Homo sapiens: one gene and its partner. The protein of the gene in region 1 purifies or fractionates together with the protein of each later gene. This does not show direct contact. Each region holds a gene or a part of one and is shown in the gene's direction. Other genes may lie near its edges. The genes, in order: MDM1 and POC1A.

Region 1 (12,741 bases):
ATATAATTTATTCTAGCTTTTCAAAACAGAAAGGGTATTTTCAGGGTATTCAGTAGTGAGGAAGACTAGTATTGCAATACTAGTCTACCAGTTCTTCATTCTTCCTTTACAACGAACGTGACTCTGCCACTCCTTCCGTGAAGGGGTTGAGTCTATTTCCCTAGCCCTTGAATCTGGGATGGCCTTTTAATCTGCTTTGGCTAACAAAATATGGTAGAGGTGATGGTATGCTGTTTCGAAGCCAAGTCCTCAAGAGGCTTCACATACTTTGGAATCCTCCGTACTTTGGATTCCTTTTGGAATCTTTCCTTTTCCATGAAAACAATCCAGGCTATCCTGCTAGAAGATGAGAGCCCAAGTGGAACGATGAGGAGTTGTCCTAGCTGAAGCCATCTGAGACCAGCCAATTTCTAGCTAACCCATCAGCTGGCCACAAATCCACAAGCAGGCTTAGTGGGATTAGCTAAGCTCAACCTACATCAGCAGAACTGGCCAACTGACCCAGAGATTCATAAGCAATAATAAATGGTTATTATTTTAAGTTGCTGCATTTGAGAGTGTTTGTTATGCAGCATTATTGTGGCAACCGACGATTGATACAAGTGGCTTAAAGAATCATTATGAGAGCTGAAGAAGTAGACTCTAGGGCCACATCACAGAACAGACTCACTAAAGGAGCCTACAGTCAGGAAGTCGTGGAACCAAGAATCTGCCTGCTAAGTTGAGACACCTTTGCTACAAGCTCCGACTTCACCTCTGCTATGACCAGGAAGCTGCTGGTAGAGCTGCCAACTCCAGAACTACGCTGCTGTTGCTGCTACTGTCATGATTTACAGCAATGCAAACCTGTGCTCTGCTTTTTTCCCATCTAACTCAGTTTATGCAAGTGCTTCTGATCAGCAGAATGTAAATTATACCCACACTTCAGTTGCAAAGGGGTCTAAGGTCAAAGGGGTTTTTAGTTTTCCAGCTTCTGCAGTAGGAGAAGGAGGTTGGCATGAATTTGGAATGAGTCAGTCTCAGCATCACCACAGCATGATTAACTAAAATACATACGATTCCTGAAACTTATTCCATAGATAGTGCTCAATGATACTAAAACAACATATTTATATATTCAGTGTTTTACATTTGGACATATCATGCTACACTGTCAACCATCATTCATTCAATTAATAGAAGTTGAGAGGTTGAAGGATGAATTGAATAACACGATACTAAGATTTTATACTAATTGCTCCAGCAAAATACATGTAAAAATCTTTTTTTTTTTTTGAGATGGAGTCTCGCTCTGTTGCCCAGGCTGGAGTGCAGTGGTGCGATCTCAGCTCACTGCAATCTCCACCTCCCGGGTTTAAGCAATTCTCCTGCCTCAGCCTCCTGAGTAGCTGGGATTATGGGTGTGCGCCACCACACCCGGAAAATTTTTGTATTTTTAGTAGAGACGGGGTTTCATCTTGTTGGCCAGGCTGGTCTCGAACTCCTGACCTTGTGATCCGCCTGCTTTGGCCTCCCAAAGTGCTGGGATGACAGGCATGAGCCACCGTGCCAGGCCTTAAGAGATAAAAATCTCTTAAGGGAGTCAACAATTATAAGCCACAAAGGAGAGGAAACTGACTTTATGTTCTGAAAAATTTTTGGTCCCTTATTGATACTTCAGATACCATTATCAGTAGAAAGACTGGCGATTTCAGAAAGAATAATAGTAGCAATCTGGACTTAATCTGCAGTTATTTTATTTATTTATTTATTTATTCGAGATGGAGTCTCGCTCTGTCACCCAGGCTGGAGTACAGTGGTGCAATCTCGGCACACTGCAATCTCTGCCTCCTGGGTTCAAGCGGTTCTTCTGCCTCAGCCTCCCGAGTAGCTGAAACTTACAGGCGTGTGCCACCATGCCCGGCTAATTTTTGTATTTTTAGTACAGAAGGGGTTTCACCAAATTGGCCAGGCTGGTCTCAAACTCCTGACCTCATGATCCGCCCGCCTCAGCCTCCCAAAGTGCTGGGATTACAGGTGCATGTACATTACCCGTGATAAAAGAAATATTTCAAAATTTATTTTGGCATAAAGGTAGAGATTTACAAGATTCTTAGAAAGGCTGATCTGACCTTAAGACACAGAATCCGATTTGATGAGATGAGAGAATTCATGCTTTCAAATCAGCAATTAGCAATTCTGGAAAATATCTGCGTCCCTGTGAGGACTTTTCAAAGAGATGGTGATTTAGGACAATAAATAATCAATGAAGAAAAGGAAAGGGAATTCTTAGAACAGAATCATACAGTGAAGGTATTAAAATGAAAGAAATTTTGTGCCCCAAATGTATTCCCTGGACCTTGTGCAGCTGCAGTACAACATTATTATTATGGTATGTGAGGCTTGCCAGTGGTTTATGCCTTACTGAGAATTACTTTACTCAGCCGTGGCCTTGTATGGTGAGGAGTCCTTTCGGCTCACCAAAAAGAGAGAAAAAAAAAAAGTCCTGTTGTCAAGAGAACCTGGAGTCCCTCCAAAAGGTGCCCCACTGATTCAAAAGCCAGACACTCCCTTGTCAACAAAGGCATCTCACGGCTAAAAGTCTGGAGGGCAAATTGCACTTGGCTCATTGCTAAGTCTTAATCATAGAACCTATTTATTCGATTCTTACTGACATTAATGTGAAGTATCAGCAATTTTGCTTCTCAGACAGAATCCATGGATTTAATTGTCATTTTTTTTAGTTGTGCAATCAGAAATTCATTCATAGGAGGAAAAATCAGCTAATACCTATGGAAAAATGCAAAAGAAAGCGGTTGTCAGACTGATTGCTTTTTGGCAAAGGCTGAGCTCAAGATTTACCAATGAAAGCCCAATTAAATGTGACCTGAGAGAATGTTAACAGAGCTAAAGAGCATTACTAAGCCCAAAGACTGGCATTTCAGTTACCTTGTAAGGTATTTCAGAGAAAATTACATATATGTAAACACAAGGCTGTGTATCACTATATTGATAAAATAGTAGTTTCTAAAACAGCTTTACTGATTTCCGAAGCAACAAGAAAAAAAAAGACAACAGAAAGCAAGTAATTCACCTTTTTGGGAACCGATCTTCAGCAATGTTAGTTGAAACTTCTCAAGGAACATCTGGCTTGGATTCAGCTACCCAGGGCAGAACAAAAAAAGTGAAAGGTCTCTAGATCAGGTGTTTCCCAGGATGGAATTTAAATTCAGCTCCTTTATCCTGCCTGCTCTTTAATAGTCTATCTTAGATCAAACTTTCTGGCTCCAGGTTTAAAAGCATCTTTAGAATACCAAGGTGCTCACATTTAGCCCCTTTCTCACTTTCTCCTTTCTTTTTATTTTCTGTGTTCTTTGTGTACTTATTGATCCCCCATTAGAAGATTATAATTATATTTGAAGACAGGGGCTATGTCTTATTCATCTTTGTACCTCCCTTCTTCAACCCTCGTCTGATGTGTTTGCTCATATACACTTTTCTTTTGTTAAATAAAAATAAATATAGTTAGAGGCAAATACAAATTCTTCACTGTTTCAACTGCTACTGAGAAAATGATAGGAGATTATTAATTTGTGAAGTGGTCAACTTCCTTTTTTAATAGAATGAGTAGTAGATGAGAATATTTTATATTTCAAGTGCAAATAAAATTTGCCTCAAAGGATTTTGATATGTTTTTGTCTCTAAAAGGAGCAACAGCCTTATCGTGAGGTATATGTCAAGATAAATCTAGAAAGGGCCAATGGAGTTATTTTATTTAAGGAAAATAGCCTCAGTGGTAACTATCAATAACTTAAAGTTTCCATATCTTACCAGTAAACTGAATAAAATGCTCTTTTCTTTATAGCTGCCGCTAATGGAGTTGGACTCATGAGTGAGGGAGAAAGTGCCTGTGAATGACATCATTATGCGACATCATAGGACAGTTTTTTTTTTCTTTTATTCACTCGTCTTTCTTTTATTTCAACTGATGGTATACCATAAACAGTCTTCTAAGCCTTGCTTCTTTTCTTTGAGAGTCTTCTATGTTAGCTCATAAAGAGGTGCTTCTTGCTTGTTAGGGGTTGTATGGAAGTGTGCAAGTTAATAAGCTGTTGCATGTCAGTTCCAGTCTCACCCTTCAGACTGTGCAAATCACATGGCCAGCTCCCTGTTATGTTTGCCAAGAAAGGAAGCTAGGGAAAGACTGGGATGCTCTGTTTTGTTTGCTGTTCCTCCCCGCAGCACCTGAACAGTGATCTTCTACCCCACAGTGGCAGTTCATTGCAGTCTCCAGCTTGTCTCTTTTCCAGACGTTCCCAGAGAGTCTCATTTTGTCCCCTCAGAGGCACCCCACCAGTGGGGCAGTGGCCCTTTCTCAGCGGTCTGACCAACTCCAGGAGGCCTCTCCTACAAACCTCCGCATTCTAGTAACCTCAACATTTTCCTTTTGTTCTCTCAGCCTTACAGTATGAGCTGCTTCCTGGAGTTCCTCTTCTTTATCCTTTTGGCTTTAAGTTCTTCAATAGCTAATGAACCAATAGCTTATATTAAGTTCTCTTTGTTGAAATGCCTTGTGTAGGGTCTGTTTTCCTAGCTGGACCTAACATATCCATGCAGGATCAGAAGGCCCAAAGGAGCAGAACAACCTGCGCTACTCTTTGAATTTGGATGAACCGTAATGTATTTGACTAGTTCTCTCTAAATGGACATTTAGGTAGTTTTCAACCTTTTGTAACTAGAAACAGTACATTAAACAACTTTAAATGAATATTTTTTTTCACATATGTGTGAGTCTATCTGTAAGATAAATTTATAGAAGAGGAACTCCTGGATCAAATTGCCAAAATGCCCTTCATATAGGTTGTGCAAATTCAGTCTCTCACGAGCAATAGACAGAAATCTATTCCTATGAGAAATAGAGAAATCAACAAAGGGAAGAGTGAGCCAGGTGTGATACCACTGTCCCAGTAAGAGGGCCTTAGCTAGTGGAAGAGAGAAGCATAGCATGAGATCTGTCACTTGAGGAATTACTTTTTGGCTTAGACTCCACGGACTTCATTTTGAGCCCTTTGGCGATGAGAAAGGCTAAAACACAAATGAAAAGAAGGCTCTCTAAGACATAGTGTTACTCACTTCAAAGAGGGTAACGCAAAAAGGAGAGGTGCTTTGCCATAGATTACCACCAATGCCAGGCAGTTTGAGGAGTGGCTGTACCCAGTTGCTGTGCCCAGTGAAGACTCAGTACCAAGCTAAAGTGGCTGTGATAGCCAGCAGCAAGAGTGACACCTACAGATGCATGGCTATTGGAACAAGGGGCAGTGCTGCCCGGCATACGCTATGTGGTTGCTGCGAGCACATGTGAAATACCTCCTAGGGACTCCCCAAAACATGGGTGGAGCTTTGTAGGGTACTGGGTACTGTTTCCTGCAGTAGCAGAGAAGATAAGAGCTGGTAAAACACAGGCTACAAAACTCATTTACTAAGGTAGTCACTTTTTTTTTTCCCATTCCTATATCTTTGCCTCTTAAACTTGGGTAGGCTTTTGTTTAACAATAGCAAAGTAAAATCTTCTTCCTTAAGTCTTTATGATACTTCTCTAGCAAGCCTGGGATGTGACTGAGTTATTTTTACAATCTGCTGTTTGGTTTTCCTGTCATTTACTCCCTGCTCAGCAGAGCTCTTCTGCAGTGATCATTGCGCTTGTTTAGCAGGCAGGCTACATTCTACACACTTGCTTTTGCTGATCTCACCTTAGCATTTTGTGGTAACAAAGCTGTGTGCACAACCAAAGTTGTGCCTTTCTTACTCTGTAAGATGGGCTGCCTTCCTGCAGATGACTTTTGTTCTATGTTCCACTGTGTCTTGTTTGTGCCATTCTTAATTTACACGACAGAGATGCTGTCATCACCAATTAACATTAATCAAGGGCCCCCTGGATGCATGGCTGCATTGGGACTAATTTAATATGCTCTTTGTTCCAGATATCAGGTGGCTTCTTCAAATGATTTTTAAGTATCTCGATGATGATGAAGAACAAAGACATCAATCAGGATTCAGGAAGACAGCTTTTGCGGAAAATGCTTAAAGGGAAGCATCAAGGATTGGTGTTGATATTTGAAAGTTTAAGAGTGGTATACTTTTATTCAGTCAACACATGACAAATGTAAAAGGCACTCATTTGTTGTTCCTGGAAGAAGCCTGGCAGCATTCCATTCAGACATCTGCCCTTTCATCGTCCCACTTTTTACTTATTGCAGTCCTTTCAGTCTGAATATTTCCTCCTGACGCATCTTCTGCCGTCCGAAATGACTCCCTGCTCCCAGATCCTGTAGCCCTTATTATTGACACCTTTCATTTAGAAATTTAGCACATGTCACATTACACCATTATTGAATAAATAATGAATAAATAAATAAATAAAGATGTATGTCCTTCCCAAGTATATCAGAGAACTATCTGGACAATTTCTTTCTTTCCCAATTCTCAGAATCAGCAGTATTCTGTCAAGAAACATTTATCGACGATGATGGCAATAGTCGATTAAAATCAGATGAAGTTTTATTTTTAAAAAAAGGTTGAGCGGAGAGACAAGGCTGAAGGTTTGGAAGTTGAGACAACCATCTTCAATAAACGTTTTCTCATCTAAGGGCTGTATGTACATCATTTTGGGGAAGGTAGAGATTGAAGGAGGAAGAACATCACTGGAGGAAGAGACAGCAGTTTGTCTTTCGAGTTTCAATAAAGTTTCAAAAATCTTGCCTAAGTTATATATTTTTTTGGCCTTTCCCTTTTGATGTGACAATAAACTGTAATGCGGCTGTCGTTTGTACGAACCGATATTCAGCAGAATAAATCTGAGCACTTTCAGAAAAAGAAGCGTTCGGTTTTCTCATAGATGTTAGCATGAAGAACACACTTTGACCTTTGATGCTGTCAAGCACCTGGGCCAGCGAGGCTGGCGGCTGGCGAATTCCACCAGCAAGCAGACGCATTGCTGCGCAGGACCCGGCGAACCAGGGACCGGTCCACCCAACCCAGGAAGGCACCCCCGGGGTCCCGCCCAGCCCGGTTCCGGGAGCCTTATTGGCCGGCCTTCCGCCCGCCATCTCTATCAGCCCCAGGGATTTGGCAAGGGAGGTAGGCGGCTCCCTTTCGGCCACTCATTGGTCAAATCCTAATGGAGGTAAGGCACTCTGCGAGTCTCTATTGGTCCCTAGGCTCCAAAAAGGGCGGGGAAAAACAGACCGACAGGCCTCTAGGCGGGAAGCGCGGAGTGCGCCGGCGCGTAGTCGGGGACGCCGGGCCGAGGCTTTGCTAGGGAACACTGTTATCGCCCCGCCCCCTCGGAGCTTTTTCTCCAGTTAACTGTCGGAGTAGCGGGGGCTCCGGCGCCGGGCGACATGCCGGTGCGCTTCAAGGTGAGGCTGGGGTCCCCGGGCCGGAATGTGGCTGGGGGGAGCCATGGCCGGGGAGGTGTGGAGCGCCGAGGTCACGCTGCTTTTCTGCGCTGCAGCCCTCTGCCCGGCGGAAGCTGCCAGCCCCAGGGCCTGCTCGAGGGGCCCCAGAATCTGCCCGCCGCCTCTTAACCTAGTTCCCTCTCCGCTCACTCACATTTGCAAGCTGCAGTGTGTCGAAGAGTCAGATGGTGCGAGACACATTTACTTAGGGGGACTCAAGAGGAGTGGAGATGGGAGGAGGTCCCTTTGCGAAGAGAACTAAAGGCGACTTCAGATTGGGACACCTGTGGCCCATTTAGCTTAGCATTTAACCCCCATTACCTTTAAAACTTTAGTGTATGTGGCTTTTAAAGGCTTGAGAAATGGGTTCTTAGTAAAGACAGCGTATAAAGAAATACACGTTTTTCATCGTTGTGCATTCTTAGCGTATGTTAAAAGTTCCAGGTAGCTGGTAGCTGTCAGGGACTAGCACCCTGCAACTTCACAGGTGGCCACAGCGTCCCACATCTCCTGACTCATTTATCTTAAAGGCGTGTATTCAGAATGGAAGGGGAGTTTGCCTTTTGTTGACTTTATCAAATAGCAAAAGGTCCTAGGCATGGTACATAATATTGTGTACTCGGTGAAAACCTGCGATAAATCTAGAATGATGAGAATTTAGATTGTCATTAGTTATCCGACAAGAACTCATGCTTTGGAATCAGATAATCAGTGAAAGGGTAACCTCTGAGCCTGGAATTCCTGGTAGCATCTGCCTCAAGTGGTGTTGTGGATTAAAGGATATAACACGTGTGAACTGCTTAGCACAGGGCTGGGTGAATATTAGCTCTTATTAAGGAGCTCGTCTGTGTTTAATTTTCAGTCTTAAGTCTCTTTTGGGAGGTTCAGAAATTATTTTTCACCGATGTCTGCTTTAAAACATCATTCATTAATTGGACTGTACTCAAAAGTGTACTTTGCATTACAGGGGCTGAGTGAATACCAGAGGAACTTCCTGTGGAAAAAGTCTTATTTGTCCGAGTCTTGTAATTCCTCCGTGGGGCGAAAGTACCCATGGGCTGGACTTAGATCAGATCAATTAGGTAAGTTGAGCAGGCTAATAGCCATTCTAACCTGGGCTAAGTTTATAACTTGGGCCAAGCCGTTATAACTTGGGCTAAGTAAACCTTGGGCTAAGTTTACCAAATGATATATTAAAAGTTCAGTTGGCCTGGTTGATTTATTCATTTATTAATCAAGTATTTATTGAAGGTTTACTATGAGCCAGGACTATTCCCAGCAGCTAGTGTGGCAGGCCAGGTTTCACTAATGGAGGCCTCCATCACAACTGTTTCGGTACTGACTGAGCGGTTAAGTTAAATATTGAAAGCTAAAAAAAGCCAGTGCCCTTACACAAAGGCTGGGATGTCACAAAAGCCCATCAAGAGTATTGCCTAGGCCTTTCCTGGGCCATAAAGCATGACAAAATAAGGAATTCTTAACAGGATCCGTTTAGGATTAAACAAGTTTTACTGGGGGTCTGAAGAAACTCCCCAGGCCTCCACAAATTTATTGGCGGTCTGAAGGAACTCCTCAAACCTCCATGATTCAGCAGGAGACAAGATAAGGGTAATCAGCCCAGCACCTAGACCCATTTAGATTAAGTAAATTTACTGATGCTCCAGAAGAAGGTCTTCAGGACTCAGACCTTAGTTATAGATTAAAAGAAGTTAATCACTTATATCCTTAGATGAATGCACACTTACACGTAGACATATAGCTTAGAAGGTATATAAGCTCTGAAAAACTTTGTAATTTGGGGTTCGTCTGGTGATAATTTGCAGGCCTTCTTCCCGTAACTGGTTATAGAAATAAAAACTCTCTTTCTCCCTAGTTTATCTGCATCTCGTTATTGGCCGAGAGAAATAGCAGCCTGACCCTCAGTTTGGTCTGGGAACACTAGGGATATAGCCCTGAACCAAAGTCCCTTAACTGTGGAGAGAAACAGTAAGCAAGTCACTCAATAATTAAGGGAATTTCAGGTTTTTATATAAAATTGTAGGGAAGTGTGATACATAACATGCGGGAGGAGTGGATTGGAGGGAAAATGCTTTAGATTAGATGGTTGGGAAAGGCTCTTTTTGAGGAGGTGATATTTGAGCTGAGACCTGAAAGCTGAGGGGACAATGCTGGGGAAGAGTGCTCCCAAGGTCTTGAGAAATGGAAGCTTAGGGAGATGAGGTCGCTGCCCCAGCTTTACAGCTAGTAAGTGGCAGAACCATGATTTGAAATCAAGTCTGTTTTGTGCAAAGCATGTAATTTCAGAGGTCATGTTCTTGTTATCACACATGCCTCCTCCCTGTGTCCCAGGGAAGGCAGAGTCCTGGGCCAGAGTTTCCCGGAGGGTGATAGAACAGAAGGGAGACAGACTGACCTCATTATACCTGCTTATTTAATTCTTCCTTACTAGTATATTAGATCTCTGAGAGTAGGGCTCTGTCTTATTCACCACCCAGTACCTAACACAGGCCTTGGAACATTCTATTGCTTCTTGAAACTATTTTTTGAATGAATGAATTAGCCTAAATTTGAATTATAATAGCTGTGTGATGTTGGGCAAATTGAGCTAGTTTCACCAAGTGAGATTTTAGGAAGTCTGTTGCATAGGATTACTGGGAGGGTTTAAATGAGATGTTGCCTATTAAGGGCCTGGTTTGAGTACACAGATCAGTGCTTAGTGTCCCACATGTGATGTGTGCGAGCATGGCATGTAAGTCACATAAATGTTAGATGTTTGAAGCCAGGAAAAGACTTATGGGTAGGGTACCAAGCCTGGAAAGTTAGTAAGACGACGAGGTATTTTCAGAATTTGGTCTAGAGAACAAAGGGAAGAGTGGGCAAGAGTGAGTGTCTCTTTTAGAGTTCCTCTGAAGCATCATGATCTGACCCAGCGGCAAACTTCAGAGACTGGGTGTCCCTGCTTCTCCGGCAGGGTGCTAGGAAAATCCCTCTGCTCATAATCCTCTTTTTACAAATGACCAGAAATTCCACATATTTGAACCTCCATTAGATTAAGAATCCAAATAAATCTCTGTTTAAGCATAGATATCCCACCCTGCTGAGCGCCTACAGGGCTATTATGACACTGGAAAATTCATTAAACTGGGTAGTTGTCCAATAACATTTCAGCTTAGATCAGCTGCATTTGAGGGGAAGGTGATGAAATGAGACCATGAGAGCAAAGCCACCTTAGAGCATGGTATATAATGAAGGAAGGAATGGACTAGGGGAGGAACGTTAGTGGGGAATTTTAGGTCATGGGGAGGGACTGAGCAAGAATTCCAGAATGCTCAGAATGGGAGGTGGGAGGTTAGCAAAAAACAACAGCAGTGTTACCGAGGATGGCTGTCCCTTCTTTTAGAGTAGTGTATTTTTACCCTGGGGATTTGCTGGTGCTGGGAGACAGCGGCAGACCACTTGAGAATCTTCTTTCATTTTGTGCTTCTACCAAAAACCTGCCTCTGTGTTAAAGCAGAGAGGAGTCTAATTGGTGATCTTCAAGCTTTTTTGCTTTTATACTTCCTAGAAAAATTTAGAAAAACATTGTGCTTCGTCACACATTTCTAAATTGCTATTTTTTATAATAAATTTTTATGAATAGTTTTGAATGATAGAATTTCTGGTATATTGCATAGTGCTTATATATTTTACATATATTTTGTAAAAACTCTGGAGTTGCCAATTTAGCCCATTCAATTTTTGGAAAATGTTTATCATACAATTGGCAAAGTCAGTATTCATTGGCAAACTAACCGGCCAAATTAGAATTATTTTCTGTGAGAAAGTCTGTTTATCTTTAATTAAGGTAAATGTGTTATATGCATATGTACATTTCACATGACATCCCTCTCATATCTGAATTTTAATACTGAGAAGGTAGATGGAAAATCCATGGAGCTATATGAAATAAGATGCTGTTGCTTTGTTATTTCTAATCTCTGCCTGCTTTGTTTTGCTGTCAAATATTCTCCCTCAGGGATATGCTTTCTTGAATTGTCCCTTTGTTTGGCTCCCTACCCCTGAGGTTTTGTTCTACCTTGGGCGGACGCACTGGAGTAAGTTTCAGGCTGGTTAAGAGGTGTGTCTTTCTTCTCTAAAGTGGGAAAAAGGAGATTATGAAAGGGGCGGTGGGAAATGGAACTGCAGATGGCAGATGCAGCTCTCAGGCAGATATATCAGCATCAGGCAAGAGAGCACATGTGGAGTTGAGGATCTGGAAAATGATTCCCTTAAGCTGCCCACTTCTGTTTACCCTCCTAAAACATCTTTGTGTGCCTCCAGACAGATATCCACCCAGTGAGAAGACCTGTGGTCTAGGGAAGCCTTTTAAAAGGATAAGGACCCGGGGTGACATGGCCAAGACATCTACAACAGAGGCTAAGGAGCCCTGGGTTTTACCTCATGCCCAATTTTCTTTCCACCTTCCCTTTCCATTCTGGTCTTAATCTTCCTTCTGCACCCTGCAACTGTCTTAAAGAATGGCCCTAAACTAGGGCAGTCTCTCAGTGGCTGTCATTCTGCAGAGCTGCTCTTACCTTCATAGAAGGTTAAGTTTTTGGACATTTGCTTTCCATACAGAAATATAGAGAAATTGTATCTTAGCTGTTGTTAAAAGGGCTTATTCTTTTTTAATTCTCAGGAAATCAAGGCAGATGTAGAACCAAGATCCAGCACAGTGACATCTCATCCCTTCTCATCTTGGTCTGCTCCACATAAGAGAAGCTTTGTGAAAAGTTCCAAATTTTGACAGTACCAGGGCCCATTGTTCTGTTAAGTAGCACAGGAAAGTAATTAGAAACGAGGCAGCATGTACTGCCTGGCCTGCCAGGTCTATCACGTTGCAATTCTAGTGACTTTTGTTAGGATAACTGGAACATTTTGTGACCCCCTGATTTTTAATTTTTTGTTATGGTCAAATTTTTAATGCTTTTAAAAGCAAAATTAAATATTTTATGTTGAAAAGCTGTACTTTTAAAATCCTATAATCTGAAGGATATTGTGTGTATATATAGGTACATATATCTGAACTAAATTTAAAATTTCATTTCTCCTCCACAAGTGTTCTTAAAAGTTGTCTTTGTAACTTTTTGCTTTAGTAGCTACTATTTTTGTATACCGTGTTTTGTAGGCATCACGAAAGAGCCAAGTTTTATTTCAAAAAGAAGAGTCCCTTACCATGACCCACAGATTTCAAAATCTCTGGAGTGGAATGGAGCTATCTCAGAGAGCAATGTGGTTGCATCACCAGAACCAGAAGCCCCGGAAA
Region 2 (11,782 bases), on another chromosome or scaffold:
TGTTCCCCCACCCCACCCCCCTCCATAGGAAGCCCTGAGGTTTGTTACCAATGCTCTTTCAGACAGAGGCTTCTGGAACAGAAGAGCAGTGGGGCTTGCCTCCACTTGGAGCCCATATCTTTCCTATCCTTCCTTCAGCCTTCTGCTCTGGGCCAGGCCTGAGTGAAGGGCTGGGGCTTGGGGATGGGGCACATCTGCCCAGCTGCCTGGGGAACGTGGGCAGGTGCAGAGGAGGGAGGACTTGGACAGGGAGAGATGGGAGTGGAAGGCGACGAGGCAGGACAGTGGTCAGGAGCACATGCTGTGGTTCCTTTCTGTAAAGGGGGTGGCAATAGGCCTTCCTCATGGCTTTGTGAGGCTCTGATGGGAAAAGCCACAAAAGGGTTATAACACAGGGCTAGGTATGTGGTTTGTGCTACATAAGTCCTGACACTGGGCAGAGAGGATGTCTAGGTGACCCTGGGAGGGTCCAGACCCATCTCTGATGGATCAGGAGCCTGGGCCTGGTGTTCATGGGTATAACAGCAGGTACCCCTTGGGAAGGGCCTTGGATGCCATCTCTGGCTCGGGGTCCCAAAGATGTGGCCTGATTGGCAGTGCTAGGACTAGCCTCGTCATTTAAGGTATGAAGGGAAGAAGGACATCTGAGAGGATAGCGGTGTCCAGAGCCTGCTGGGGTTGGGGGCTGGTGTGCCCCATGTGTCCCAGTGATGGGTAGGTGTCCAGCTGTGCCTGGTATCAAAGTAGGGGCTGGCATCAGAGTGGGGGATGGGTTGCAGAGGTTGAGTAGAAGCAGAGAAGCTGACCCTGTTGGGGTGGAGGGGCCAGCTGGACCCAGGGATCTGGGATGTGAGAATGGCTGAGGTCACATTCTGAGCCCCTATAATTGAGGGGCCACAGAAGATAAAGGTCCACAAAGCAGCCAGAGTGAGAGGTATGAACCCCGTCTCCAAGCATGGGAGAGCTGAGGAGGGCAGAGGCTGGGGAGTGAAGGAGAGTGGGGTCTTGTGAAGAGGGTTGTCAGGAGGTGGAGCAATGCAGAGCAGCCGAGGAGAGCGGTGGGTACTGGGGAGAGGGAGCTGGGGACCTGGAGGGAGCAGGCTTGGCAGAGGGCAGGGGCGGATCTCCATGATGGCAGGGTTGGGGAGGTGTGGATGGACTCAGATGAGCTCCAGGGGCTGAGTCCTGAGTGGAGCTGAGTGTGTGGGCTGACAGGCCCTGCTGGGAGATTGCAGTCTGCTTGTGCTTCTGGCCTTGCCTCTTATGACAGCCTCTCAGTGGGCCTGCAGTGTCTCATCCCTAAGCCACCCCTAGTGTAGATTGGAGGCTTAGCAGGATTTGGAGTACCCCATAAACACAGCCGGTTCCCCCTGAGCTCCCTGCTCAATGCCGTGGCCAGTGGTGGGTGTTCACAGGATAGCGGAGTCATCCCATAGCCTCTAGGCTGACCCTTAGGGGTGCAGTGAGCCAGGTTGATCTGAGCTCCCTGGGTAGGGGGAACATACCTCTCATCCTCTGCTGACGGGAGGACATGGCCAGGTCTGCTCTGGTCTTGGGGCTCCCCAGAAAACCTTTAGCTGAAACTAGGGGGAAACCCTCTACCCAAGTGGCTCCCCCACCCCCATAGGTGCAGTGGAATCTCTTTGGAGGCTCATTCCCCAGGAAGGGCTCCCAGTACTCTGGCAACAGATGCCTGATCCGCTTTCTGTCCCTGATCCCTAGGAAACCCAAGGGAAACCTACGGACACAGTGACGTGCAGTGTCTCCCCTAGTGACTCTGGATGGGCATCAGGCACTTCCAGAATGGCCTTCGGGTGTTGGACGCTGATGGGCTCTTGTGAGAGGATTTGGTTAATGATACTGCAGTGTGTGGCTAGCAAGCCCCAGCCTGCCTGCATCCAGCCGTCCATAGTTGTGCTCTATGAGGGCACTTCCTGTTCCTGCTAGGGTTGTTGGAGTTGAAGCCCACTTGGGGCTTTGGGCTATGGAGGCAGCTGGAGCCATTTGTCTTGCGCTGGCTGACTCTCCTAGGTAAGGAGTTTCTTGGCTCTGGCCTATCACTGCAGAGAGCAGTTCTGATTTCTCAATTCAGCAAGGATTTGGGCTGGTGGAGCCCTGGGAGTGCCAATCCCTGTGGTGGTGGGTTAGCTCCATATGCTCTGAGCCCACGTTAAGACTGTTCAGGCATCTGAGCAGCAGCCCCCATCCCAGAACCTGTAATGTGCTTCGTGCCTTACAGCACGTGCAGGTCCATTATCCAGTGACAGGCCTGGGTGGCCAGCAAAGTAGGTCTACCCTCCATTTCACAGATGCGGAGCATGCAGCCCACAGTCACACAGCTAGAAAGCTATGGGTCTGAGTCTCCACCTCAGGGCCTTTGAGTCTGGCATTCTGTTGACAGGCTCACGCTCGGTTCCTTGCACTTCGGTGACTCTAGTCATTTACTCTTCAGGCTCCCTGGGAGAGGTGGTCTCTTTGGCTGGCTGTCAGCAGGGCTTAGAACTCATAGAGTCCCAAGCTCTCTGTCCGATGGTCTTTAGTGCAGCCCTGCACCCCCGCCTGGCCTGATACATTGTCATGGAGGGTTTTGTCTTTTTTTTTTTCTCTTTCAGAGATGGGGTTGGGGTCTCACTGTATTTCCCAGGCTGGTCTTGAACTCCTGAGCTCAAGCAGTCCTCCCACCTCGGCCTCCCAAAGTGCTGGGATTACAGGCGTGAGTCACCATGCCCGGCCGGAGGGTTTTAAGTAGTTGCAGCTATCAGGGCAGGCCTGTACCCTGTACTGGGTGTTTTGAGACTAAAAGGGTTGATTGGGGTACAGTGGTGCTGTCCCACCTGATCTAGCCAACCTACTCTCCCACTGTCCTGAAGTGAGCATTTACACGGCATTTACACAGAGGAGTGTTTTGGGTGTCCTTTGCTGCTGGTATCAGAGCACTTTTGTGGTATGAATCCAAAGCCTCTTGTCAACCCAGAGCCACCGTGTCACTAGTAACATCAGTTGCGCATCGCAAGAGACCACCCTGGGGAAAATGAGCGGTCCTTTTGTGGAAGGATGTTGGGATGGGGCTTGGCCCTGGCATGGTCTCCTCTAGAGAGGAACCTCCTGCTTGGGCACCCAGGCTTTCTCTGGGCCCTTGGCTGGTTTGCAGCCCGTTAGGTAGTGGGCCTAGGTTTGCCCAAGCCTCTACAGGCAGAGCAGCATGGAGTGGGTGTACTCAGGTCTCTGCTTAGACCACCTACTGCCCACAAGCCATGACTAGTTCTTGGTATTTGGGAGCAGGGGCTGTGGTGGCCTCATCCCTGGGTCCCTGAGGATCTGTAGAAGTTTGATGTTGGTGTATCTTTGACCTGGAGTCAGAGTTCTCTCTTTGGAGTGGAGATGGGATAAGAGCCACAAGCTCACAGCTGCCACCCAGGTGGCAGTATGTGTCATCACTGATATCTGCCATGGAGCCAAGAAGAGGCCTGCGGCTTTGGACTTGAAAAAAAGTGGATCATGCTCAGACATTTGGCGCTCAAGGCATCATGATAGAAGGCTCATGCCCTCATGGGACAGCCTAGCCTTCGTGGTAGACTCTCATGCAGGGGTGGTTCTTACGATGAGGCCTCCATAGACTACCCGCTCCCCACCACCTCCACAGAGGCAAGAGGAGTGAGAGTGGAGGCTGGTGCGGCCAGTAGGTGAGGCAGGAGAGCAAGTGGGGAAAGGTGGGGTGGGTCCTGGTGTCTGGGGTATCCCCCAAAGCCTGGTATGCCAGGCCAGCCCCTCTTCTGGAGTAAATGGTTCTAGGTGTTTCTATCCAGGCTTGGGTATTCCTGGCATTTATGTGGAGTGGAGATTCTGTTGCCCTTCTTCTGGGAGAGATTCTTTCCCTTGGATGGGCTTGACCAGGTGGGGGCCCCTGGTGTGGCATCCATACACTGACCCTGCCACCTTGATGGTGCTGGGAAGCCCAGAGCTCCCTGAGCATGCCCTCCCTTCTGCACCCTCCTGCCACCGGCTGTTCCTCTGGCAGCTTCTGCTCATGGAGGGGTGGAGGTGGCCTTCATCCCAGTGCAGACTTTCTGGTGGGGGGGTCTCTGAATTCTGCCTCCAAGAGCTGGCTTCAGAGACCCCACTGGTCCCTCTCCAGCCTGCCTCCTGGAGATCCTGGCGCTTGGAGGGTGTTGTTGAGATATAAATATCATGTTACGTAAAGCCTTGGCTGTTTCCCCCTAAGTGTGCCTGGGAACACGTATCCAGACTCCCCGGCACATCGGCACATCAGCTGGGCTGGCATCTGAGGGACTGCGTGCACCCTGTGGGCCTTGTTGAGGGCCGTTTCGTGTTGGGTGTGTTTACCAACCCAGTAGTGGTTCTTACAGCCTTTCAGTGCTAAGATGACGGTTGGTTTTGAATCTGCCTTTATGTTGGTGGCAATTCTGACTTGGCAGGGTCATGGTTATTTTAGCCCCACTGGTTTTCCTCATTGGGCCTCTGGTAATGGGAAGAAAGACACTGGGGTTTTCCTCAGAAGGCACCCTAGGAGGCTGTGATACAGCTGATCCATGCATTGGCTGTGGAGTTGCTCTGTCCCCACGTAGACTGCCCAGGTGTGCCCCCAGCTTCACCTAGAACATGCTCTTGACCTTGAGGGAGAGTTGTGTAACCTGCTGGGGCTTCTGGATACCCAGCTTAAGCACCTGCTCACCAACCACTTTCTGAGTCCTGCTCGGTGCCAGGGACTTACCACCCCTGCCTGATGGAGTTCATGGTCTCATGGGAGATCCAGATGTGAGTCAGATAGTTGCATGTGAATGTGAAGAGTGAACCGATGGGAGGCTTGTGCTGCTTTGGAAGGACAAATGAAGGGGGTGGCCCTAATTGGGAGGCCAGGGGAGGCTTCCTGGAGAAGGCAGCTTCCAGTAATGAGCTTTAAGGTCAGGGAAAGGGAAGGGCAAGAGTCTCCCAGGCCCATTGGAAACAAGGGGTAAAAAAGTTCTACGGCTGGGGGAATCGACAGAGCTGGGGTGGCCGGCTCTTGGAGAGTGAGGGACACCAGAAAAGATGGTGGGGTTAGCCTGAGATGGTAGGGAAAAGAGAGTCATGGACAGGGCCAAGCTGTTGAGTGGGTGAAGTGGCAGGACCTTGAGTTGCATGGAACACAGGGGGCAAAGGAGAGGAACATCCATGTTGGCATTGGATGGCTCACTCTGCAAAGACCTCATGTGCTTAACTTAGTAGCATCCGCACAGTACCTCTTACACATAGGTGCTATGGTACAGATGGAGAAACTGAGGCTCAATGTGGTTAAGATGCTTGCTCAGGATGGATGTGGTGGCTCACGGCTGTAATCTCAGCACCTTGAGAGGCCGAGGCAGGTGGATCATCTGAGGTCAGGAGTTTGAGACCAGCCTGGTTAACATGGTGAAACCCCATCTCTACTAAAAATACAAAAATCAGCTGGACGTAGTGGCACACCTGTAGTCTCAGCTACTCAGGAGGCTGAGGCAGGAGAATCTCTTGAACCCAGGAGACGGAGGCTGCAGTGAGCTGAGGTCGCACCACTGCACTCCAGTCTGGGCGACAGAGTGAGACTCTGTCTCTCAAAAAACGTCATGGGGTGAGCCCAGGCAGGAGGCTTGGGGTCCGAATGCAGGCCTGACTGCTTCCTAAGAGTGTCTTAGCTTTCTGCTCGTCTGCCCCCACACACGTCCTTCCTGTGTGGCAGTGGCATTGTATTGACATTTGAAGGGTTTTGTTTTCCATTGGTTTCTTTAAAGAAAGAGTATATCGGGCAGACCAAAGGCTATGTTTGTATGTTTGAGTACTCTATTCTGCTCCAGCTTGACCGCTTGGTGCTGTGGGAGAGGATGGAGGAATCGTCTGCTGCCTCTGGTTTTTGCATCTGTTTCTGTCCGCCTGTCTTCCACTGCCTGCCCTTGGCTCTGAACAGGCCTTTTCCTGTTCTTCGATTGTGCCCCTCTCCTGGGAAATCCTTGTTGGGTTCCCCACAGCTCTTCTGAGCAATGACCATCCTGACCCAGCCCCATCAGGCCTGTGCTGAGCCTCGATTGGCCCTGATTGCCCGTCTTGGGCTTCAGCTGTGCTCCCTGTGCCTCCTAGCCAGCACCTGACTGATGTCCTTCCCCCAGTGCACAGTGCAGCAGTGAACGGGCTCTCTTTCCACCCGTCGGGAAACTACCTGATCACAGCCTCCAGTGACTCAACCCTGAAGATCCTGGACCTGATGGAGGGCCGGCTGCTCTACACACTCCACGGGCATCAGGTGAGAGGTGTCGGCCAGGTGCTGAGTGGTGTGGAGTGGTGGTACCTTCACTGTCTGGGCAGTGGGCAAGATGCAGAAACAGGCTTGTCACCCACACAGCCTGCAGGGAGATGGATGGAGGCATTTCCATGTGACCTGGGCAGATTGCTGGGCCTGGGACTGGTGCAGCTGAGAAGGGTATATAAGAGTTGAATTGGGCAAGGGTTGGGGGCTGCATCTGGGCATGGTTAGCAAGCCGCCCCTTAGGGGCCTGAATGGAATCTGTCCCCTAATGGCCTCAGCCATCCCTTGGTCCAGAGGTTGAGTTGAGCCTTGGAACCCATGCTCTGAGTTGACATCAGGGTTTCCTGGAGGCCCTCGGACTGGCAGACATCAGTGTGTCTAGAGACTGAGGCAACCTCAGGTGTCTTGCAGAGGCTGGGACAAAGAAGGGAAGTCTTCTTCATGTTTGTCGTTTGAGAATTCCTGGAATGGAATCAAGGAAGCAAAGGCCTCCTTTCTGAATGAGCTTCAAAGCAGCCGGTTCCCTGGTCTCCCTGGGTGGGCTGGGTCCCTGGGGGCCGGCTGTGGGAAGTAGGCCACATGCAGTTCTCCCCAGGAACTGGCCTGGGTCCGGGCCTTTCACATCTAGTACTTCCACTAGGAAGTAGTGTCCGAGCCCTCCTGATCAGAGCGGTCGTCAGAATGTCTCCTGTTGGGGCGTAGTCACCATGCCCACTTGAGATGGGAGGTCTGGAGTCCATTGAATTCAAGTCTGTCTCTAATCTGCCTGCCATGCTGAGGGAGGCCCTGGGGGTGCTTATGTGTCTTGGACTATCAGCTAAGTCTGAGGTGTCTAGCCTGGTGTTTTCTGAGCTGTTGTTTGGGTTTCCACTGCCATCTGAGTTAGGGTACCTGGGGGCCATTTGGCTATGACTAGGGGATGGGGACATAGGCCTTTTCTTCTACTTCCTCAAGGTCTGGAGGCTGCTTGCTGCCCCCAGCCTTGTTGTGACCCCTTGCCTTCCCTGTCAGAGACATATCCAGTGTGCAGGACTAGTGGGCCTGTTCTCCCTGGGCCAGCACATCCAGAGGGGGTGGCTGCTGGCCCTGGTGTAAGCCTGTTCACAAGCCAAGCCCCTGGACAAGCAAGTTATACAGATTCATGTGTAACCGTTTGGGATCTTATGCCCAGGAGGGCATTTGAAAATCATGTGAATGCTGCTACCGCTCCTGCTCCCCTAAAAAAAACAAAACAAAACTCAGAAACAGTTTGAAACAGATGCCTATCAAGTGATCACCTCTTTTTGTGAGTGTTCTTTAAACAGCTAACTCACGCTTAGCCTGAAAACACTTGAATGTGGGATCTAAAATGTCATTCCCGGTGTTCTGGCATCGCATCTGGCACATAAACGAAAGCTATTGACATTGTTCTCTCCGGGAAGTGAAGCAAGGACCATGGCGCATTGCCTTGTGTGGTCACTTGTCTGCTATTAAATCTAGAGATATGGGAACCAGGCCAAGGGACAGCTGATGGTTTGGGGTGTGGATAGGGCTGGGTCATTTCTTCTTCAGGGCACCAGGCTCACAATGCCCAGAGGAAAGGAGAAGAAGAGAAACGAACCAACGACCTCTGTTCATTTTGCCATCTGTCTGTTTGTTCATTCATCATCGGCTCTCTAGCTCACGGGGCTGGGCACCAGGGATAGGAAATGGATGTTATAGCTCTACTTCCTGGGCTTCCTGGCCTGGGAAGAGGGGGACTCCACAGGGAGGCTGACAGAGCTGAAGGCAGCATGAGACGAGTTAGGCTGGCTGAGAGGTAGACTGAGTCTTAGAGAGTACTTGGAGGGCAGGTGAAGGTGGGTAGGCCCTGCCCATCTCCCAGGGTACAGCTCAGATGAAGGTGGGAGTCAGCGTGTGAGGCTCAAATTATTTTCTTCTCCCAGCCCCCTAAACTCCCTATCAAATACAGGAACTTAGGATTGATTTACCACAAGTTTTAAGGGTTCTTTGTCCTGGGATACCGACGACACCCAGCCCCTCTGTGGGGTACTCCAGGTATCCAGGTGTAGGAACCCCTGGGCCTGGCTTGCTCAGGGTTCTGCAAACTGATTCAGGAAGACAAATTGCCCAGGGTCACCCTCTTTCCCCACCTCTGCACTTACTTTAATCCTTGCTCCTTTCTAGAGGCTGATTCTCTCCCATCCCTCCTCTTTAAGACCCATGGTGAGACCAACCATGCACTCCAACTGGTGGTGGCAAGTCAATACCGGGTTCTACAGCTGGCCTGGGTTGAAAGGTCCCGATGTGGACAAACCTGGCCTGATTCCTGCGCCCCTCCCACCTGCACTGTGGGGTTGCTGCCTTGAGAGGGCTTTCTTTTGGGGTCCTTACTAATGATGTGCAGCAGCATGATTGAAGAGCCAGGCTGAGGGCTGAGGTAGGGGTGTGAGTGTGTGAGTACGTATGGGGCAGGGATGCCCAGGAGAAGGCCTTACTTACTTCCAGCAAAGACCAGCTCACCTCCATACCACAGCCTGGCACCCCTGGGACCCAGGTCTGCCAGCGTTTGCTGTGGCTCCTTGTCATGCTTAGCTCTGCCCCTGGATTTGGAGTGATTCAGAATCAGCTAATGGGCCAGGTGTGGTAGCTCACTCCTGTCATCCCAGCACTTTCGGGGGAGGCTGAAGTGGGAAGATTGCTTGAGCCTGGGAAGCTGGGGCTGCAGTGATCTGTGATTGTGCCACTGTACTCCAGCCTGGGTGACAAAGCAAGACACTGTCTCAAAACAGAAAACCCCCCAAAAAACAGATTCAGCTAATGTTGGCTTCCCAAGGGAGCATAGTGCAATCGAGGAGCCTTAATTTGGGCATTTGGTTAAGATACGGGGTCCACTGGCTGGACAGAATACCTAGTGCTTATGGAGATCTGTGGCTAGGATCAGAGGTGGCTTTGCTCCAGCTGGGGGTAGAAATCCGTAGGGGCTGGGCCTGTGTTGTCACCCAACTGGTTCCGAGGATGTTCATTACTGATGAGGGCCTGGCTGGAGGCCACATCACAGGGGCCTGCTGACAAAGGGGCTGGGTTCTGCCTGGGCACTCTGCAGCAGGTATAGAGTCCTCATGGGCTCCCACTCACTCAGACCTTCGAGGAAGATGTGCAGCTGGTTCTTTGGTGACTTCATCTTTCACATTCTGTTCTGGGAGGTGGCGATGTGGTGGGGTCCTGGTGGCCAAGGGCCTGATGGAGCGCAGCTGCTATCAGCCACTTCCTGAATTGTGTGGCTGAGCAGCCTGGGGCTCCTGAGTGGGTCTTGGGTGCCTGGGGCTTCTGTCCTATGGATAAGGAGGATGGCAGATTGGAAAGCATTTTTTTTTTTTTTTTTTGAGTCCAGGTGGTGAAAATGAGAGCAGTCTGGATTAGTAGGGGGTCTTATGACTTCTAGTGTGCCAGAGCTGGGACAAGTACCTGTGTCTATGCAGTTTCTATCACATGTACATGTGACTTTTAAAATTCTATTTGTAATTTCACTCTTGTTTCTTTCATTCATTCATTCAGAGACAGTTTCGCCCTGTCGCCCAGGCTGGAGTGCAGTGGTGCGATCTCAGCTCACTGCAACCTCCATCTCCTGGGTTCAAGCGATTCTCCTGCCTCAGCCTCCCTAGTAGCTGGGATTACAGGCACCCGCCACCACACCCGGCTAATTTTTGTATTTTTAGTAGAGACGGGGTTTCACCGTGTTGGCCAGGCTGGTCTCAAACTCCTGACCTCAGGTGATCCACCTGCCTCAGCCTCCCAAAGTGCTGGAATTAGAGGCCTGAGCCACTGCATCCAGCCTTCTTGTTTTTATTTACTTATTTATCTTTACTGGGGTAACATATGTGTATAATTCACCATCTTTACCATTTTTAAATGTACAGTTCAGTGGTAATAAATACATTTATATTCTCTTTTTTTTAACCCCTTCATTCCCTGGCTCCCCTTCCCCATCCCAGCCCTGGTAACCACCACTCTACTCCATCTTCATGAGATCCATGTAACTCCCACGGATGTCACTCTTGTGTTTAGCTCACAGGTCTAGGTAGGGTACCAGCAGGCTTATGTCGGCTTGTGTCCCCATCTTGCTGCTACATGACCCCATTCTGATCCAACAGAAGGGAGCCCCATGAAACTTTGGTTTGGACGCAGGGGACCTGCTGTGTCCTCAGAGATGGCTTGGGAGAGCTGCGAGAGAGAGGGCTACTGCATCTTAGGGCCAGTGGGACAGCTTCCATTTCTGCATCTGAGAAGTGGACAGTGCAGGCTGGGGGTGAGCAGCAGTGAGGTCAGCCACAGGGAGCTGCTGTGGGATGAGGCAGACCTTGACCTGGGCATGGGGGCTCTGCGGGTGCCAGGAGAAGGGCCCCAGCAAGCCCTCTGGGGAAACCGTGGGGGAGGTTTGGGGTAGAAAAAGGAGGGTCAGGGTGCAGTGCTGTTGGGCTGCAACTCTATTGTCTGAGTTGAGGCCAAACTCACCCTGATTTACCTTTCAGTTGTCTCCTAAGGTACAAGGAGCGCCAGGACAGAGGGACTTGCCAAGTGCCAGCTAAGATGAGTATCACCCAGTGTAGCCCTGGGTCTCCTGGGCTGGACCTGTGTGCTGGTGTTGAGGGCAGGTTATCAGCCAGGAGTCAGCGTGCGGGTGGTTTGGTAGCTCTCTGGCACATGAGTGGCACACATCGGCCCATTTGAGAGGCCTTTTGTTTGCGCAGGCTCATTTTGTGAGAGTAAGGGGTTATCTTAGTCTGTTCTGTGCTGTTGTAATAAAATACCGGAGACTGGGTAACTTATCAAGAACAGAAAGTTATTTCTCAGTTCCAGATGCTGGAAGTCCCAGATCAAGGTACTAGCGTTGGGGAAGGCTGCCCTCTGCTTCCGAGATGGGGCTTGAATGCTGCATCCTCTGAGGGGAGTAACACTGTCCTCACATGCAGAAGGTGGAAGGGCGGAAAGGACCAAACTCCCTTTGTCAAGCCCTTTCATAAGTGCACCTAATCCCCTTCATGAGGGCGGAGCCCTTGTGACTCAATCACTTCCCAAAGGCCACACCTCCCAACACTGTTACCTTGGGGATTCAATTTCTTTCTTTCTTTTTTTTTTTTGAGATGGAGTCTCACTCTGTTGCCCAGGCTGGAGTGCAGTGGCGTGAACTCGGCTCACTGCAACCTCCGTCTCCCAGGTTCAAACAATCCTCCCACCTCAGCCTCCCGAGTAGTTGGGATTACACGTGCACGCCACCATGCCCGGCTAATTTTTTGCGTTTTTAGTAGAGACAGGGTTTCACCATGTTGGCCAGGCTGGTCTCGAACTCCTGACCTCAAGTGATCTGCCTTCCTTGGTCTCCCAAAGTGCTGGGATTACAGGCGTGAGCCACCACGCCTGGCTGGGGATTCAATTTCAGTATCAATTTTGTTGGGGACAAAAACATTCACACCATAGCAGGGGTGGATGTTGGTTACAAGTTTATTGTGGCCCTGAAGAATTCTGGTG

Evidence for each region.
Region 2: the proteins of MDM1 (region 1) and POC1A purify together in Homo sapiens (affinity purification with mass spectrometry; 2 studies listed by BioGRID and IntAct, with this or other methods). This does not show direct contact.

What each region holds. Positions count from the first base shown.
Region 1 is NC_000012.12:68,326,884-68,339,624, reverse strand, and holds the start of MDM1 (nuclear protein MDM1), read left to right. Parts: upstream 1-7,262; 5' UTR 7,263-7,379; coding exon 7,380-7,397; exon of another isoform or gene 7,398-7,621; coding exon of another isoform or gene 7,622-7,624; intron 7,625-8,403; coding exon 8,404-8,518; intron 8,519-12,114; coding exon of another isoform or gene 12,115-12,191; exon of another isoform or gene 12,192-12,603; coding exon 12,604-12,741. UniProt on the Homo sapiens protein: Microtubule-binding protein that negatively regulates centriole duplication. Binds to and stabilizes microtubules.
Region 2 is NC_000003.12:52,132,658-52,144,439, reverse strand, and holds part of POC1A (POC1 centriolar protein homolog A), read left to right. Parts: intron 1-6,137; coding exon 6,138-6,271; intron 6,272-11,782.